4 separate regions of the Homo sapiens genome follow, and regions 2, 3 and 4 are each linked to region 1. Evidence: fine-mapped expression QTL. A gene starts in region 1. Each other region holds a variant in brackets. All regions are shown on one strand. Distances are from middle to middle.

The links. PIP is the estimated chance that this variant, and not a neighbour inherited with it, causes the effect.
Region 2: its variant is the best candidate, but not a certain one, in a credible set for the expression of MON1B in subcutaneous fat (TwinsUK, PIP 0.71).
Region 3: its variant is the best candidate, but not a certain one, in a credible set for the expression of MON1B in whole blood (TOPMed, PIP 0.75).
Region 4: its variant is the best candidate, but not a certain one, in a credible set for the expression of MON1B in cerebellar hemisphere (GTEx, PIP 0.52).

What each region holds. Positions count from the first base shown.
Region 1 is chr16:77,189,154-77,193,316 of GRCh38, forward strand. MON1B (MON1 vesicular trafficking associated B) reads left to right here and starts at 2,037. Exons shown (of 6, transcript NM_014940.4): 1 at 2,037-2,105; 2 at 2,323-2,480. The coding sequence starts at 2,333. LOC124903725 reads right to left here and starts at 1,413. Exons shown (of 1, transcript XM_047435021.1): 1 at 755-1,413. The coding sequence starts at 1,413. The coding sequence ends at 1,069. RefSeq lists enhancers at 1,755-2,703, 1,829-2,118, 2,139-2,188.
Region 2 is chr16:77,211,659-77,215,821 of GRCh38, forward strand. SYCE1L (synaptonemal complex central element protein 1 like) reads left to right here. Exons shown (of 11, transcript NM_001129979.3): 8 at 472-541; 9 at 624-711; 10 at 916-988; 11 at 1,199-1,557. The coding sequence ends at 1,273. LOC124903726 (a long non-coding RNA gene) reads right to left here and starts at 473. Exons shown (of 2, transcript XR_007065121.1): 1 at 371-473; 2 at 1-273. RefSeq lists silencers at 473-832, 893-1,222, 1,333-1,422, 1,453-1,502 and an enhancer at 580-1,553. The variant C/T (reference allele first, on the strand shown) is at 1,949.
Region 3 is chr16:77,229,366-77,233,528 of GRCh38, forward strand. No RefSeq gene overlaps it. Among named protein-coding and RNA genes, the nearest start is that of SYCE1L, 32 kb to the left of the region's middle. RefSeq lists an enhancer at 1,306-1,475 and a cis regulatory region at 1,391. The variant C/A (reference allele first, on the strand shown) is at 2,401.
Region 4 is chr16:77,240,971-77,245,133 of GRCh38, forward strand. No RefSeq gene overlaps it. Among named protein-coding and RNA genes, the nearest start is that of SYCE1L, 44 kb to the left of the region's middle. The variant A/G (reference allele first, on the strand shown) is at 2,138.

The DNA of each region.
Region 1 (4,163 bases):
AGATATTTACAAAGATAAAGCTACATACTTCCCTCATAATTTGCCCTCTAGGGATTCCTTGTGGGCTGCAAGATCTTTACCCTAAAACGGTTCTGTTGAATTTTACCCTGACAACGTAAATTGATAGTTTATCTTCACAGGTGCGAGACAAAGGAGCGAACCCCAAGTCATCCCTCTGCTCACCTGAAACAAATGCATATCTGATTGCTTCCTCTGAGGTAAAAATGCAGATTGACAAAGCTAGATGAAGGCGTAACTATTCCTCTACTCCCCTGATAAGGTTTGGATCTATGTTCCCACCGAAATCTGATGTCGAATGGTAATCCCCATTATTGAAGGTGGGGTCTGGTGGGAGTTGATCGGATCTTGGGGGTGAATCCTTCATGAATGGTTTAGCATCATCCTCTTGGTGACAGTGACTGAGGGAGTTATTGCGAGATCTGGTTGTTTAAAGTGTGTAGCCCTGGGCTGGGCATGATGGCTCACTCCTGTAATCCCAGCAATTTGGGAAGCTGAGGCGGGTGAATCACCTGAGGTCGGGAGTTCAAGACCAGCCTGGCCAACATGGCGAAACCCCATGTCTACTAAAAATACAAAAATTAGCCGGACGTGGTGGCGGGCACCTGTAATCCCAGCTACTCCAGAGGCTGAGGCAGGAGAATTGCTTGAACCCGGGAGACGGAGGCTGCAATGAGTCAATAACATTTTGCCATTGCACTCCAGCCTGGGTAACACAGCGAGATTAATAAATAAGTTTGCTTATGAGATGTTATTTTATTGTACTTTTTTACATGTTTATTATATATTATATACTTCTAAATGTATTAGGTAAATATATTTTGTATGCACATAAATTTATCCATTGTTTCTGTTATATAAATTTAATATTTATTACTTATCGATTACCTATTGTATATAAAGCACATGATGCTACACTGGTATTTGGAATTCATTACCCTAACTATACTGTAATTAAAATAATTATCCTAACTAGTACCAAAGGCTTCCCCTTAGCAATCACTCGAAGTGTGCCAGCACCTCCACTCACTTCACGTCAAGCGATTCCCATCATTGTTTCACTGATGGAGAAACCAAGGCCCAGGGCACTTGGGGCAAGGCGTTCAGGGGGCTTTCGGTCCGGAAGCAGCGTCGGGGCGGGAATTCGAACCCTGGGTTCCCACACTGGCCCGTGGCAGGGCCCCCAAGCCTTTTCCCAAACTGATCACAGAAAGTGACGACCCGTTCGCCCGGCGGACCGGGGGCGTCGGGCAGGTCCTGGTCCAAGTGAGTGCCCGCCCCTGCCCTGGGCTGGCAGAGTTCTTCCCCCAGCTGCAGGTAGACGTGGGAACCCGGCAGGGTACGGAGCTGCTGGCGCGGCACGCTGATTAGAAGCGGCGACTGCCCGTCAAGCATTCGCGCCTCTCCCCTCCCTTGACTTTCTTGGCAGGGTTAAGGGATAAGAGAAAGTGGAGTTGCCTCAGTTCTGGGAGAGCCCGTTTGTGGGTCCGGCACAGGTATCCATCGGGACTGACGCTGCAAAAGTCCTCTTGTGAAACAAGGAATAGGCTCGAGTCTTCGATTGGGTCGAGGGAGACGTCAATCAATGGATGGGCGTGTGCAAACGCAACACAACGCACAGTATTGGTTAGGATTTGGCGGGGGGAGTAGACAGCGGGGAAATGAGGCGGCTCATCTCGATTGGCCCAGAAAGAAGACGGTCGCGCCCTATGTACTCCGGGATTGGCTAGAGCGAGCCGCGTCCCCCCTCACGCCAACCACTGGTAAGCGAAGTGGGCCTCGCTCTCCCGGGTTAGCAGCCGTAGCCAGATCCGTTGAAAGGAGTGCAGAGAGGTCTCATTGCGCTCCCGAACAGACCTGACGTAGATCCGAAGTGGCCCGCGCCATCTCAACTATGAGGGGACACCCGTAGGCGGCGGGAGAGGGACGCCGCGAGGAGCCAATAAAGCTCCGCAACCGGAAGTGTCTTCTGGGAGGGGTCGTACCCGGAAGTGTGGCACCTCCCGGGCCGCACCCGGAAGTGTGATGCCACCGCCGCTACGGGGAAGTAATGGTATCCGGCCAATTGAGATTCGGAGTTAAAACAGGTGTTTGTATATCTCTATTTCCTGAGGCCCAGTAGAGTCTCCTCTTTTCGGAAAGTGTTGGAGGGGGGACGTATTTGGGCATGATTTTGGATGTCTCGTCCTATTGAAATCCGTGGGGAAATGAGCAGTAGGAGTGTGTCCAAGGGGGCCTGACTCTATAAAGGCTTTTCAGAAGTTTCTTTCACCGCCCGTCACCCTCGATTCCCCTCCCACTCAGGGATGTGCAGATGGAGGTCGGAGGAGACACTGCTGCCCCGGCCCCCGGGGGCGCGGAGGACTTGGAGGACACGCAGTTCCCCAGTGAGGAAGCTAGAGAAGGTGGAGGGGTTCACGCGGTCCCGCCGGATCCCGAAGACGAGGGCCTGGAGGAAACAGGTATGACTCCACTTAGTGGGGTCTTAAAAGGAATCCTTAGGGGTTGTCATTGTTGGACGGGGGAAGGGTCAGTGGGTGACCAGTAGGGAGTCTTGGGACTTAAGAGAAGTGGCTTAAACCATCGCCGGGTCAGGAGGAGGTCACTGTGGACACATGGTGTAGTTTACATCATTGAGGAAGTCATTGGCTGTCAACGGATGTTCACTGGGGGTTTGGTGTGAGTTTAGGTCATTGAGGAATCAAAAAGGGGGCTGTTAGGACCAAAGAGGGTCACTGAGGATTTAGAGTGTTTAGATCAAAGAATGCGCTGAAGAAAGTCAATAGACTCAACAGAGGAGGACTGTTGAGAAGTTAGTGTTTTTGAGGAGTAGGGTGTTATTTATTAAATAATAGAAGTGGGAAGGGGAATCAGTGGAGTTCGATGGGCACTCAGAGTATTTACATCATTGAAGTCACTTGTAGACTGTTGGGGAAGTCTTTAAGGGACCAAATGTTAGTGGATGTGTAAAGTTGTTCATTTGAGATTTAATGGAAGTCACTGAGAAGTCTGTGCCATTGATCACTTTGGAATTAGTGGATGTAAATGGAGTCATTGGGAAGGATCAGTGGACCTCACTGAGAATAAATGTGGATGGGGAGGTTGAGGACTTGGGAATTAATAGCAGGTAAGAGCAGTTATTAGGAGGGAGTAAAGATATTTGGGGACATGGGAGTGTCAGTGAATGTCAGTGACAGAATATGCAATTATTGGGATTTTATGGGAAAATTATTGAGACATAGTTGCACATGGATAATAATGGTTGTCATTGGGGGATGAATGGAAATCAATGGGAATAAATGGATGTGTCAGTAGGGGCTGTTGAAGTTGTGGGTTTTAGTGAATGTTAATGATGGTCATGGGTAGGGGCAATGGAAGTCATTAAAGTCTTGTGTGTTAGTGGATATTATGATGGTTACTGTAGGGAGGGGAGTGGATACCAATGAGATTGAAGGTGGTCAGGGGAGTGACTGAAGGTCTCTGAAGTGCTGGGTGTTAGTGGAGGTTAATGATGGTCATTGTTGGGGGTAGGGGGGAGTAGACATGGAGTAGAATAACTTGTGGATCAGGGCAGTCATGGAGGGTCATTGAAAAACCAGGTGTTAATGATTGTTAATGTGGGGTCATTGGGGTGTTTGTGAACCACAGTGGGAGTGAATAGTGGATTAGGGGAGTCCTAAATATCTGGGTGTTAGTGGATATTAACGACAGTCATTGGGAGAAATAGTGGACATTACCAAGAATATAAATGGGCAACCAGGAGAGTTAGTAGGGGTCATCAGGTATCAGTGGGCATCACTGATAGGGTAGTAGCGGGGGTTGGGGCATTCAAACAGTTAAGATATTAATAGATGTTAATGGTGGCCATTGGGTGAGCAGATATCAGGAGAAAAAATAGCGGTCAGAGGAGTTAATGGGGGATCATTGAAGATGAATAATCGTCATCCAGAGTCAATGGGGTGCTTTGAAGACTTTGGAATAACAGTGATTGAAAGGGAAGTAATTGGTCTGTAGGAACATAGCAAGTCCAGTGGAATAACAATGAGAATATGTTGGTTTATTAGGGTTTTAGGAAGTTCATTGGAACCTAAATGTTAGTGGAGATCATTGCGGGGTCCTAGGGCAGTCATCGGGTCATTGAGGGG
Region 2 (4,163 bases), 23 kb after region 1:
CAGATCAAAGAGTCCACGTCTTTGCTGTCCCAAGCTGGTTGGGGACGGTGGAGGCACCAAGAAAGTTAGTGGCTAGATCGTGGAACTTCAGTGGGAAGGCCTCTAAGCAAGTGACATCTCAACGCAGAGGTGAAGGAAGTGAGGGAAGAAGCCGTGCAGGTATCGGTGCAGAAGGAAGGCCCTGGGGCTGGACGGTGCCTGAAACCGTTGAGGAGCCGCAGATTGGGGAATGGAGGATGAGGAGAGTGGGAAGAGTTCAAGTTTGAGAGGTGCCTGGAGACATGGAGAGCGTTTAGGGGGAGGTGGGTGGGTCTCCAGCCACAGCAGGAACTGCACATTGAGTTAATAAATAGTTGAATGAATGAATGACCTAATGTAGGTGAAGACTTCGCGAGAAGCACAAAAGGGGAGGGGCGGGCCGTGTAGCCAAGAGGACGGCCAAACGGGGAGGCCTCCTCTTTGTCCTCGCAGATGCTGGAGCAGCGACTGGCCCGGGAGATCCGTGCCCTGGAGAGAAGCAAGGAGCAGCTGCTCTCGGAGAGTGAGCCTCCCGCGCCAGGTGGGCGGGGGGAGGGGGATGTGCCCGGGCCTCGGCCCTGCCCCTGACGCCCGCCCACCGACAGGGAGGCTGGTGCGCGCCAAGCTGCGGGAGGTGGAGCGGCGGCTGCACTCGCCGCCTGAGGTCGAGGGCGCCATGGCGGTGAATGACGGGTGAGAGGGGAAGGGAGGAGTGGGCGAGGAGGGCAGGGGCAGGGCGGAGGGGAACCCGCCCAGGTCCCCCGCTCCGCCCCCGACTGCCGCTTCCCCGGCCTGTGCCTCCCTCGGCGTCGTCGGGTCTCCGCGTCTCGGTGGCTTCCTCCTCGTCCCCTGGACTCTCGCTCTCTTCCTCCTGTCTCCTCGGCCCCTTCTCCGCAGGCTGAAGGCGGAGCTGGAGATATTCGGGGAGCAGGTCCGGAGCGCCCCCGAGGTCGGGGCCGGCGAGGGAGAGGTAGGGAGCCCGAGGAAGGGAGGCGGGGCGGGCAGGGACCGAGTCAGGAGAGAGCGGGCGGGGGTCCTGGGAGCGGCCCCCGAGAGTGGGGTCTGTGGGGAGCAGGGCGGCCCCGGGGACAGAGGAAGCCGCGGTGGAGGCCTAGGGCAGACGCGGGCGGACGCGAGGAGCGTAGGAACCTGGTCCGCAGCCTCACCCAGCCCCCGGCAGGCCGGACCTGAGCTCCCCCGCGCTCGCGACGAGGAGGATCCCGAGCCGCCGGTGGCTGCCCCTGACGCCCTCTAGGCCAGCAGGACCCGCCCGTTCCCGACCTTCCCTCGAGACCCGCCAAGAAATAAAGGCGATGATTTCCGACCATGCTCGCGTTCTCCGCGGAGTCTGTGCTACACCGTGGAGCGGGGCGGGGCGTGCTGGGATCTCGAGGCGGGGCCTCTGCCGGACCCCTCCCACCAGTCGAGCCCCGGGCGCCGTACAGAGGCTGGGTAAATGCTCCTGAACTCAGAGAGAGTAAGTGGGTGTCAGTATCCCCCGCCCCACGGCCTCATCTCGAGTTCCCAAACCATCTATGTTGTCAACAGGGGCCGGAGGGCAGGTGTTAACCCATTCCGGTCCTCGGGGCCTGTGCGTCTCCGGTGGTCTCAGGAAACCCAGAGTCTCTGCAAGACCCGCAGACTCGCGCTGGCTCTGGGACATGCCCGCCCATCTGAGCTCCCCTCACAAATTGGGTTCTAGCCAAGGCTGCCTCTCCACCCGTCTCAAACATTCCAAAACACGTGTCCCCTCGGGGCCTTCGCCCTACTGGTCCTTCTCTGGGGTCACATCCCCCAGGCAACCTCAGATCTGTTAAATGTGTCCGCCACTCTGGAGGCCGGCATTTGGGACCCAAATCCAAAGGCACCCAGCAGCAGGCTGCGGCCATTGACTGAGCATGTACTGACTAAGCAGGCATTTGCCGATTGC[C/T]TGCTGGGTACCAGGCACTGTTCTAAGCACTGGATTTTAAACAGCGCGGTCAGCGACGGCCTCACCTAGGAAGTGGTATCTGAGCGGAGAAGCGAGGTAGAGAAGCGAGGGGGTGAGCCCTGTGGGTGTCTGGGGAAAGGTGGGCCTGGCAGAAGACATGCCTCATGCCAAGGCGGGAGGTGAGGCTGCACTTCGCTGTGTTTGAGGAGACGTCTGGAGAAGGCCGGCGTGGTAGAGTGGAATGAGGTAGAGTGGGATGGGAGACGACACTGGAGAGTTGCCAAGGACCAGTCAAGTTGGACACTATCTAATGTGTGTAGAAGAGGACCTGGCACACAGTCAGTATTCAGTGAATGCCAGCTCTCACATATTGTTGGGATGATTCACTATTCCCAGTCCCTAGAGAATGGGAACTGAGATGTGTGACTCACTTAGATCAGAGGCTTCTGTCCATTAAGTGATCAGTAAGTGGTTCATATGATTTATTATTATTATTCCCAGGCTACAGATGAGGAACACTAAGGTGTGTATATCTCTCAGAACAGAGATTTTTATAACATAAATGCTCAATAAATGGTATCTATCATTTATTATTCTCACTGCTATTCTTGCTGTTATTCCCAATTTAGCGATGAGGAAAATTGAGATAGTGAATCTGTACAGTAAGCCCTCAATAAACGTTGGGTCTCACGTTTGTTGCCATTATTATCCCAAGTCCACAGATGAGGCCCAGGGAGCTTTAGTCCCCGAGTCACCACTCGCATCCGGGCAGAGCTGACTCCAGGCCCAGGCTGTGGTCCCCTGCCCCACTGACACCACCTACTTGCTAAGGCCAGTCTCCAGGAATCTCTAAGGAACTTCAGTATCCTCTTTGTCATCCTCTCTGTGTCACACAAATGGGGTCAGCCTGGATATTCTGCCGATTTACCACTGGGCACCTAGGATTCGAGTCCTGGTTTCCCTGTTCACCAGCTGGATGACCTCAGGCAAATTGCTTAATGTCTCTAAAACGCAGTGACCAGCTGGGTGCTGTGGCTCACGCCTGTAATCCCAGCACTCTGGGAGGCTGAGGCGGGTGGATCACGAGGTCAGGAGTTCAAGACCAGCCTTGCCAAGATGGTGACACCCCTTGGTTTGGTGGTGGCAGGTGTCTGGAATCCTAGCTACTCAGGAGGCTGTGGCAGAGAATTGCTTGAACCCGGAAGGCGGAGGTTGCAGTGAGCCAAGATGGCGCCACTACACTCCAGCCTGGGCGACAGAGCGAGACTTTGGCTTTTGATTTGCCCTGTGTTCTCCTGACTCAACTGACCTTCCTGGCAGGGCTACTTCTCCTTTCATTGAAATAATTGACAGCTGCCTGGGAAGTCTTCACTCACTTCCTGTAACAGCTTTTCTCAGGGCTTGCATTCAATTACCATAATTCTCAAGCTTCTTGGCTTGTAGTTCAGGTTCAAATGTGAATGAGCCTGGGGGAGCTCAGTGTTGCCAAAAGGCGGAAGGACATTCTTTTTATTATTATTATTATTTTTATTTATTTATTTATTTATTTTTGAGACGGAGTCTCGCTCTGTCGCCCAGGCTGGAGTGCAGTGGCGCCATCTCGGCTCACTGCAAGCTCCGGCTCCCAGGTTCACGCCATTGTCCTGCCTCAGCCTCCAGAGTAGCTGGGACTACAGGTGCCCGCTACCACACCCGGCTAATGTTTTTCTGTATTTTTAGTAGAGACGGGGTTTTACCGTGTTATCCAGGATGGTCTCGATCTCCTGCCCTCGTGATCCGCCCGCCTCGGCCTCCCAGAATGCTGGGATTACAGGCGTGAGCAACCGCACCCGGCCAGGACATTCTTGAAAAAAGTAAGCCAGAAAGAAACCCACTGAAAAACAGAGGAGTCAGAGGAGGGGCCCGAAGAGATGCAAACATAGCACATCCTGAGTAGCAAGCTAGACAAGGCATGGAAGAGAGAGTGGCCAAAGTGACTGCAGTAGAATCTCCCGGAGGATAATAATATTACTACCTAATAGAGCACACTAGTTAGCAGAACAGAACCCAGGGCCAGACTGTGTTTGTTAGAATCCCAGCTCTGCTGCATACTAGCTGTGTAACTTCAGGTTACACAGTTAGGTTACTTAAATTCCCTTTTTTTTTTTTTTTTTGAGATGGAGTTTCATTCTTGTTGCCTAGGCTGGAGTGCAATGGCGAGATCACGGCTCACTGC
Region 3 (4,163 bases), 40 kb after region 1:
TGGACTGATGTTGTTTCACATTATTTAATTCTACCAAGAATTGTGTGCATTGTTTGCCATTTCCCCACCACCCTTTTTTTTGAAACAGAGTTTTGTTCTTGTTGCCCAGGCTGGAGTGCAGTGGCGTGATCTCGGCTCACTGCACATCCGCCTCCTGGATTCAAGCAATTCTCCTGCTTCAGCCTCCTGAGTAGCTGGGATTACAGGTGCACACCATCACGCCTGGCTAATTTTTGTATTTTTAGTAGAGATGGGGTTTCACCAGGTTGGCCAGACTGGTCTCGAACTCCTGACCTCAGGTAATCACCCTGCCTTGGCCTCCTAAAGTGCTAGGATTACTGGCATGAGCCACCACGCCCAGTCTTTTCCCCCCTTTTTTTTTAATAGATGGGGGAGGAAACCTAATTTCTGAGAGATTCTGTGTTTTGTTCAAGGTCAAAAAACAGCTCAAATAAGTCAAAGGAGGCCCACCTGGATCCAAAATCTATATACCTTCCACTATATCATATGAGAGTCCTCTGACTGTCTTTAGGGGAATGACATTTTCCATTTGAGTCAATGGAAGCTATAGCTTTACAGAGTAATGACCTTTACCTTATACCCTATTTTAATTCCCTTTAAGCCTGAGGGCCCTTGAATAGTTGGTTTCTACAAAAATGAAGCTGAAAAACAATTACCAAAATATACTAACGACCTCCATGCTATAAAATTATTCACGAGCTAGACCACGGCGAGACTTCTCTAACAAATCCACATCATCCATTTCAAATTTTTAAATTAAATTGATGGCTCTTTAGCTCTGATATGTCACTTTTGTTTTCTTTTCTTTGAGACAGAATTTCACTCTTGTTGCTCAGGCTGGAGTGCAGTGGCACAATCTCGGCTCACCGCAACCTCCACCTCCCAGGTTCAAGCAATTCTCCTGCCTCAGCCTCTGGAATAGCTGGGATTACAGGCTTGTGCCACCATGCATGGCTAATTTTTTTTTTTTTTTTTTTTTTTTTTTTTTAGTAGGGACAGGGTTTCTCCATGGTGGTCAGGCTGGTCTCGAACTCCCGACCTCAGGGGATCTGCCCGCCTCGGCCTCCCAAAGTGCTGGGATTACAGGCGTGAGCCACTGCGCCTGGCCTGATATGTCACTTTTAAAATTCCAAAGGCCCTTTTCCATGAAAGGATCCAGGAATTACTGGCTTCCGATCACCCTTCACAGTCCTTTGTTCATTTTGCTGAACTAGGGTTGCCATTAGAATGGTTCACTGAAGCTCATTCATTCCGGACATTGCCCAGGTGTCCTGCTGTGAAGAAAATTGATATTTTTATTGTGGCTCTTTCAGTTTGCATTGCAAAGGCAAGTATTTTTGAAATTTTGAAATAGAACTTATAATACTGTGTTAAATTCCTATTGCTTATTTCCTCATATCTGCCGGCTGTGTTCTCACGTCCATCTTTGTGTTTTCTGGAGCGCCAATATCCTAGCTCAGATTGGCATTGCCACTTACATGGCTACGGGAGAACTTCATTTCCCACTCTGCCTCTAGCCTTGTTCATTTCCATTTGTCAGTCACATTGTAGTCAGAACTAATTCACTTATAGCTCTTTACTTCTCTGGTTTCCCATGAACTACAGGGTCAAATCCGAAAACTTTATTCCAGAATGCAAGTCCCTCTCTAATGGTCTTATGTGAACCTACCTTTCCAGCCATACATCCCACTACTACCTCTCACCATTCTGGACCCCTCCCTGTCCACCCGCAACTCATGCAAGGCAAGATTTCTTTTCGAATATGACTTTTCTCCCTGCATGGTGTTTACTCTGATTGTATTTTATCTTCAAACACCAGAAGCTATTCATTTTTAAGTGCCCCTTTATCACATAGCCTTCCTTGACCTCTCTGAGAGCAACCTCTGTTTCCTCTGTGTTTCATCATCAAACTACTTATACCATGTCTAGATGAAGTATGATCATTGATGTTATACACCTTCGTGTGCTGGCTGAGAGCTTACATTCTAAGAAATGAGGTTATACCTTATTAATTTTCATATTATCTCAATAATAAGTATAACAAGTTACTGAGTAATTGCTGTAAGAGGAGAACATCTTTGGAGCATCTAACCAACTCACCATGATTTTTAAAAAATCATCTCCCTCTATCAACAGCACTACATGGTGCTATCATTCCCAACAGTCATGTCGTCAAATGTAATTTTGCTCAATTCACTTGCAGGCATCTGAAGATTATGAAATTTAAAAATAAAATGTAATCACTCACGTGCTTAGTGGCAGGCCCTCTGCTTAATGTTATTGCATAAGCATCAGTCATTCGGGTATGGTCTTTTCCCATTGTGTCATTATAGGTCTTATAGACATTAAAAGAACAATAAAAGTGTGTGTGTTTGTGAG[C/A]TAAATGACTTCGGAGAGCAAATTAAAACATTTAGATGAGATGGACAAATTTCTTGAAATATGCAAATCCCTTAAACTGATGCAGGAGGAAATAGAAAATCTGAATAGCTCCATACCTAAATCATTATTTGGAAAAAGTTAAAATTAGGCCCATGTCTCACCATCCACCACAAGAACAAGCAAATAAAGGATCTAATGTAATAATATGAAAGCATACAAGTGCTAGATGGAAACACGGGTGAATTTCTCTTTATTCTGATGTAGGAAAAGGCTTTCTGGCTATGACTCAAAACCCAGAGGTGATAACTTTGACTACATAAAAAAATTTGCATGGAAAGAAATACCATAAATGTTCAAAAATATGTTACATATATTATGGATAAAGATTTAATATCTATAATATATAAAAAACTCTTGAAAGAATAAATTTCAAAAATGAGAATTCTTTAAAATATAAACAGCAAGAATCAAGACTGCTTATGCAGAATTATAAATATGTAAAAATAACAGCAAAATAATGAAAAGGAAATAAACTATTTTTTTTTTTTCCAGATGGAGTTTCACTCTTGTCACCCAGGCTGGAGTATGGTGGTGCCATCTTGGCTCACTGTAACCTCTCCCTCCCAGGTTGAAGTGATTCTCCTGCCTCAGCCTCCCGAGTAGCTGGGATTACAGGCACCCGTCACCAAGCCTGGCTAATTTTTTGTGTCTTTAGTAGAGACGGGGCTTCACCATGTTGGGCAAGCTGGTCTCAAACTCCTCACCTCAGGTGATCTGCCCGTCTTAGCCTCCTAGAGTGCTATAGTTATGAAATAATGACAATTGCTACTTTTTTCCTTTTTTCTACTTCTCTGTGTTTTTGAAATACACTAAGTACATCTTTCTTTTATAAGCAAATAGATGTTATTATAATAAAAAATGTTAAAAGACACAAAGAGATACCATTACAGGCTCACTAATGTGTAAAAATATTAATACACATTGTGGGGAGGTTGTAAAATAACCGGAACACTCAAACATCGCTGGTAGAAGCACAAAGTGGTGCAAACACTTTGAAAAACGGGTAGTTTCTTCTAAATTTAAACACATATTTACCATGACTCAGAAATTCCCCTCCGTGGTATTTACCCAAGAGAAATGAAAATACATAGCTTCATTAAAAAGTATACGTAAGGCCGGGCACGGTGGCTCACGCCTGTAATCCCAGCACTTTGGGAGGCCAAGGCGGGCGATCACGAGGTCAGTAGTTTGAGACCATCCTGGCTAACACGGTGAAACCCCGTCTCTACTAAAAATACAAAAAAATCAGCTGGGCGTGGTGGCGGGTGCCTGTAGTCCCAGCTACTTGGGAGGCTGAGGCAGGAGAATGGCTTGAACTGGAGAGGCAGAGGTTGCAGTGAGCCGGGATCACGCCATTGCACTCCAGCCTGGGCGACAGAGCAAGACTCCGTTTTTTAAAAAAAAGTATACGTAAATGTTCATAGCAAATTTTATTAATAGTTGCCCCAAACCGGAAACAACCACTGTAATTAGAGTTTGAAATCAACATGCTCCACATTCAGGCCACTCTCATAACCACAAAGATAATGGGAAAATAGAGCAGGAAAATACTTTGATATACTTAATTTCTGTGAAAAAAACAGGATGTTTTTCTGATGTCTGTTTCTTGGAGACAAGTAATTGTTCATCTCATTATCGCCTCAGACGAGAAACAAAGCAAATAAGAAATGAGATCGTTCTAATCCTTCTATATTTTTGCCCAA
Region 4 (4,163 bases), 52 kb after region 1:
ATGACTTGAGCTCAGGAGTTTGAGACCAGCCTGGGCAACATGGCAAAACCCCCACCTGTATAAAAAATACAAAAATTAGCTGAACGTGGTGGCAGGCACCTATAGTTCCAGCTACTTGGGAGGCTGAGGTGGGAGAACTGCTTGAGCCCAGGAGGTCGAGGCTTCAGTGAACCATGATCGTGCCACTGCACTCCAGCGTGGGCAACAAAGTGAAACCCCATTTCAAAAACAAAGAAAAAAGAAAAAAAAAAACAGTAGAGACTACAGCACAGAATTAAGGGCAAGGATGGTAAACAATTTGAAGTTCCAAGACACGAGATTTCTGTGATGGCAGAAGAGACTTGAGCAACTTTCAAGAGACAATGGAAGCCTGGGAGGGCTGGGCTAATGCCTTCCATGTGGCCAAGATGCGACCTCTCAGGCTTTAATCAGACAGTCTCAGAATGAGGTTACGTTGCAAGACCTGCATAGCTTTTCTAGTCTGTGCACAAACTGTGTTGGTCACGGACTGAGTTATGAAGCTATTGGGTCTGGGTGTGAATGGCAGGGTCTGTCTTCAGCTCAAGTTTGATAGAGGAATCTCTGCCATAGCCACAAGGAAGCCATGTTACTTTATTTTCCTTCCTTTATCTCTGTAGCCGCCTCTTTTCAGGAATTACTGGGGGTAGTCATTTGTATGTGTAGTAAAAAGTGTCTTCTGTATCATTCACTCTTTTTGCTTCTTTCTTTTTTTTTTTGAGATAGAGTCTCGCTCTGTCGTCCAGGCTGGAGTGCAGTGGCATGATCTTGGCTCACTGCAACCTCAGCCTCCTGGGTTCGAGCGATTCTTCTGCCTCAGCCTCCCAGGTAGCTGGGACTACAGGCAGATGCCACCACGCCCAGCTAATTTTAGTATTTTTAGTAGAGACGGGGTTTCACCCTATTGGCCAGGCTGGTCTCAAACTCCTGACCTCGTGATCTGCCTGGGCCTCCCAAAGTGCTGGGATTACAGGCGTGAGCCACCGCGCCGGGCCCCATTCACTCTTTTCTGGCACTACCACTTGACTGAGGTCAAATGGCTATTTGTGTTAAGATTCCATTTCCTTATCTGTAAAATGGGTAACAATGTATCTATTCCTCCTAAATAAAGTATTTTCTTGGGATTTTAACTGAGTTCATATAAGATAATGTAGATAAAGCACTTGCCAATTATTTACTAGTCACTGCTTTACTACTTATTGATAACTCTATTCGAGATACAGTATTAGGGATATAGCAGGAAGAACGGGATTTGGTTCTTTGGTTATAGCCTGGAGGTCTGAGTTTGAGTCCTGGTTCTGTTACTGATGAGTTTTGTGATCTGGGAAAAGTAACTTTTTCTTTCAGACCTTTTTAGTTTTTTTTTCTTCAGCTTTTAAGTTCAAGGGTACATGAGCAGGATGTGTGGGTTTGTTACATAGGTAAAAGTGTTCCATGGTGGTTGGCTGCACAAACCATTCCATTACCTAGGTATTAAGCCCAGCATCCATTGGCTATTCTTCCTGATGCTCTCCCTCCCGCTGCCTCTCTCCCCCACACAGGCCCCAGTGTGTGTTGTTCCCTCCCTGTGTCCATGTGTTCTCATGGTTCACCTTTCACTTATAAGTGAGAACATGCAGTGTATGGTTTTCTGTACCTGCATTACTTTGCCGAGGATAACAGCATCCAGCTCCATCCATGTTCCTGCAAAGGACATGATCTCATTCCTTTTTATGGCTGCATAGTATTCCGTGGTATATGTGTAACCACATTTTCTTTATCTAGTCTATCATTGATGGGCATTTGGGTTGATTCCATGTCTTTGCTGTTGTAAATAGTGCTACAATGATCATACACGTGCACGTTGTTTTGTTTTGTGTTTTCATCTGATTTTGGAGAAGATCAACATTATTAGGCCCATGAGATTGTCCTCAATATGAAAAGGGTGTCAGTGGACACGGAAGTCTGGGAAACTTTGCATCTTATGTTCTTTTTTTGTGGAAATCTTCAATACATACTATAGTAAAGACCCTGAGAAGTCCTGCAGTGAAGAAACTTGTTTAATTTGGATTAAACTAAAATTTCCCGCTATAGTAGCAAATCACCATCCCCTGGAATATTCTTTGGAACATACTGAACT[A/G]GGTGATCTCCCAAGAGACTTTTCCACTTTGAAAATCTTTTTTTTTCTCTCTACTCACGTCAACTGTGTTCAGTGTTTCTTTCTGTAGTTTCAGCATCACATATAAGGGGCGGTGCTCCCTTTGTTGATAAGAGGCTACACCTGTCAATTTTAAGCCCCCTGGCATGAACAACTGACAGATCTACATTTACATAAAGCCATGTGAGTAAAATACCCATCCTCATATGAGCAAAGAAGATGATGATCTGCAAAATCTAAAATGTGCTTTGCAACATTTTTATTGCTGCCAATGCCATATTTTCCTTCTGTTCACAGGGCAGCCTTTTTTTCGGGTATTGTATCCCATTTTTGCCACCTAAATGGAGAGAAAAACTTGGAAGCAGAAGCCTTTCATTGCCCTCTGAGTAGGGGAACCAAATAAGACTGATGGTCTGGAAACCAGAAAGTTTGGAATCTAATTCTGCCTGCATTTCTCCATCTAGAAAGAAAGAAAGAAGAGTGAAGCTAGATTGGTCTCTGTGTTCTTACCCAGCATGAGATGATGTTTCTTTTTAGACGAATAGCATCCAGTAATCTAGTACCTGCTTTTAATCCTGCAGTAGTTCCATAGTTTATCACTGTAGCCTCCTTTTTTGGCGGAGAGAGTCTTGCTCTGTCACCTAGGCTGGAGTGTAGTGGTGCGATCTTGGCTCACTGCAACCTCCACCTCCCGGGTTCAAGATCCTCTTGCCTCAGCCTCCCAAATAGCTGGGACTACAGGCATGTGCCACCACACCCAGCTAATTTTTATATTTTTAGTAGGGATGGAGATTCACCATGTTGGCCAGGCTGGTCTCAAACAGCTGAAGGTGATCTGCCTGTCTCAGGCCTCCAAAAGTGCTGGGATTATGAGCATGAGCCACCTTGCCCGGCCTGCAGCCTCTTGTAGTAGCCTCTGGTCTTGTATGGTTTGCATTAGCTTCCTTGCACCAATGAACACCATCAGGGGTTGGAAGTAGCCCAAACCCATCTGGCTCTTTTAATGGGGCTGCACTTCACCCCTCATGCCAACATCAATGTCACCCTCATTCTTCGGGAAAATACTCTTACTGCTGAGGCAGCCTTGTGTCCTGGATTCTAGGGATTTGGGTATTTTCTTTCTTTTTCTTATATTAAAATAAATAGCATTGACATAAACCCTAATTTACATTATGTGAAGGATTTTACTTAAATCCTCAAGAGCCATGAGAATCAGACCTGGGCCTGCAAATAGGGCCAGTCACACTGGCATAGATTAAGGCACGAGGATCAGCTTCCATTTTGGGGCTAAAGACTGTTTTTGCTTTTGTGGCTCTGTCAGGCCCTTAACATCACTTAAGCATAATTGATTTGGGGGAACTGAAAGCTGTGAATGTGTACATTGGCTTCTGTTGCTCCAGAAGTGTTTTAAAGCAGCTCCAATTCCCTGAACTATTGAGCACAGGGAATCTCTCCCCATAAAAAGCTTTAAGCATTGATTTTGAGGTTATTTACTGCACTCATCTCCCTGTTCCCATGTGGGATCAGCTAATTAGGACCCATTTGTGATGTGTCTGAATCACATCAGTAACCCCCTTTTTGGGGAAAAGGGGTCCATACACTTGCAGGTAAAGGACCATCAAACACCTGCACTGTGTCTCAGGGTGGCTCAGTGACTTTACTACTCTGTGAACTTGGGCCAAGTGTTTTGCCCCCCTGGGTACCACTCAGCTTCCTTCTGTGAAATGAGGCCAATAACTCCAGTCATGAACCTCTCTTAGGACTGCTCAGCTGGGACACCTTTTCTCCCCTCCCCAATTTGCCCTAAAACATCTGTGGGCAATCTTGGCTTTCTCTGGCTCACCTTGTTCTCCAGTGTCCTTGAGGATTGGCAAAGGGTGCTCCTGTTTCTGGTGACAACCTATTATTTTGATTGATGAACTTACACTCCTTCTTCCACATTCAAACCAAGTGTTTTCATCCCAGGTGGTTTTTCTTGACATGGCAGGATAGATGCCACTCTTCCATG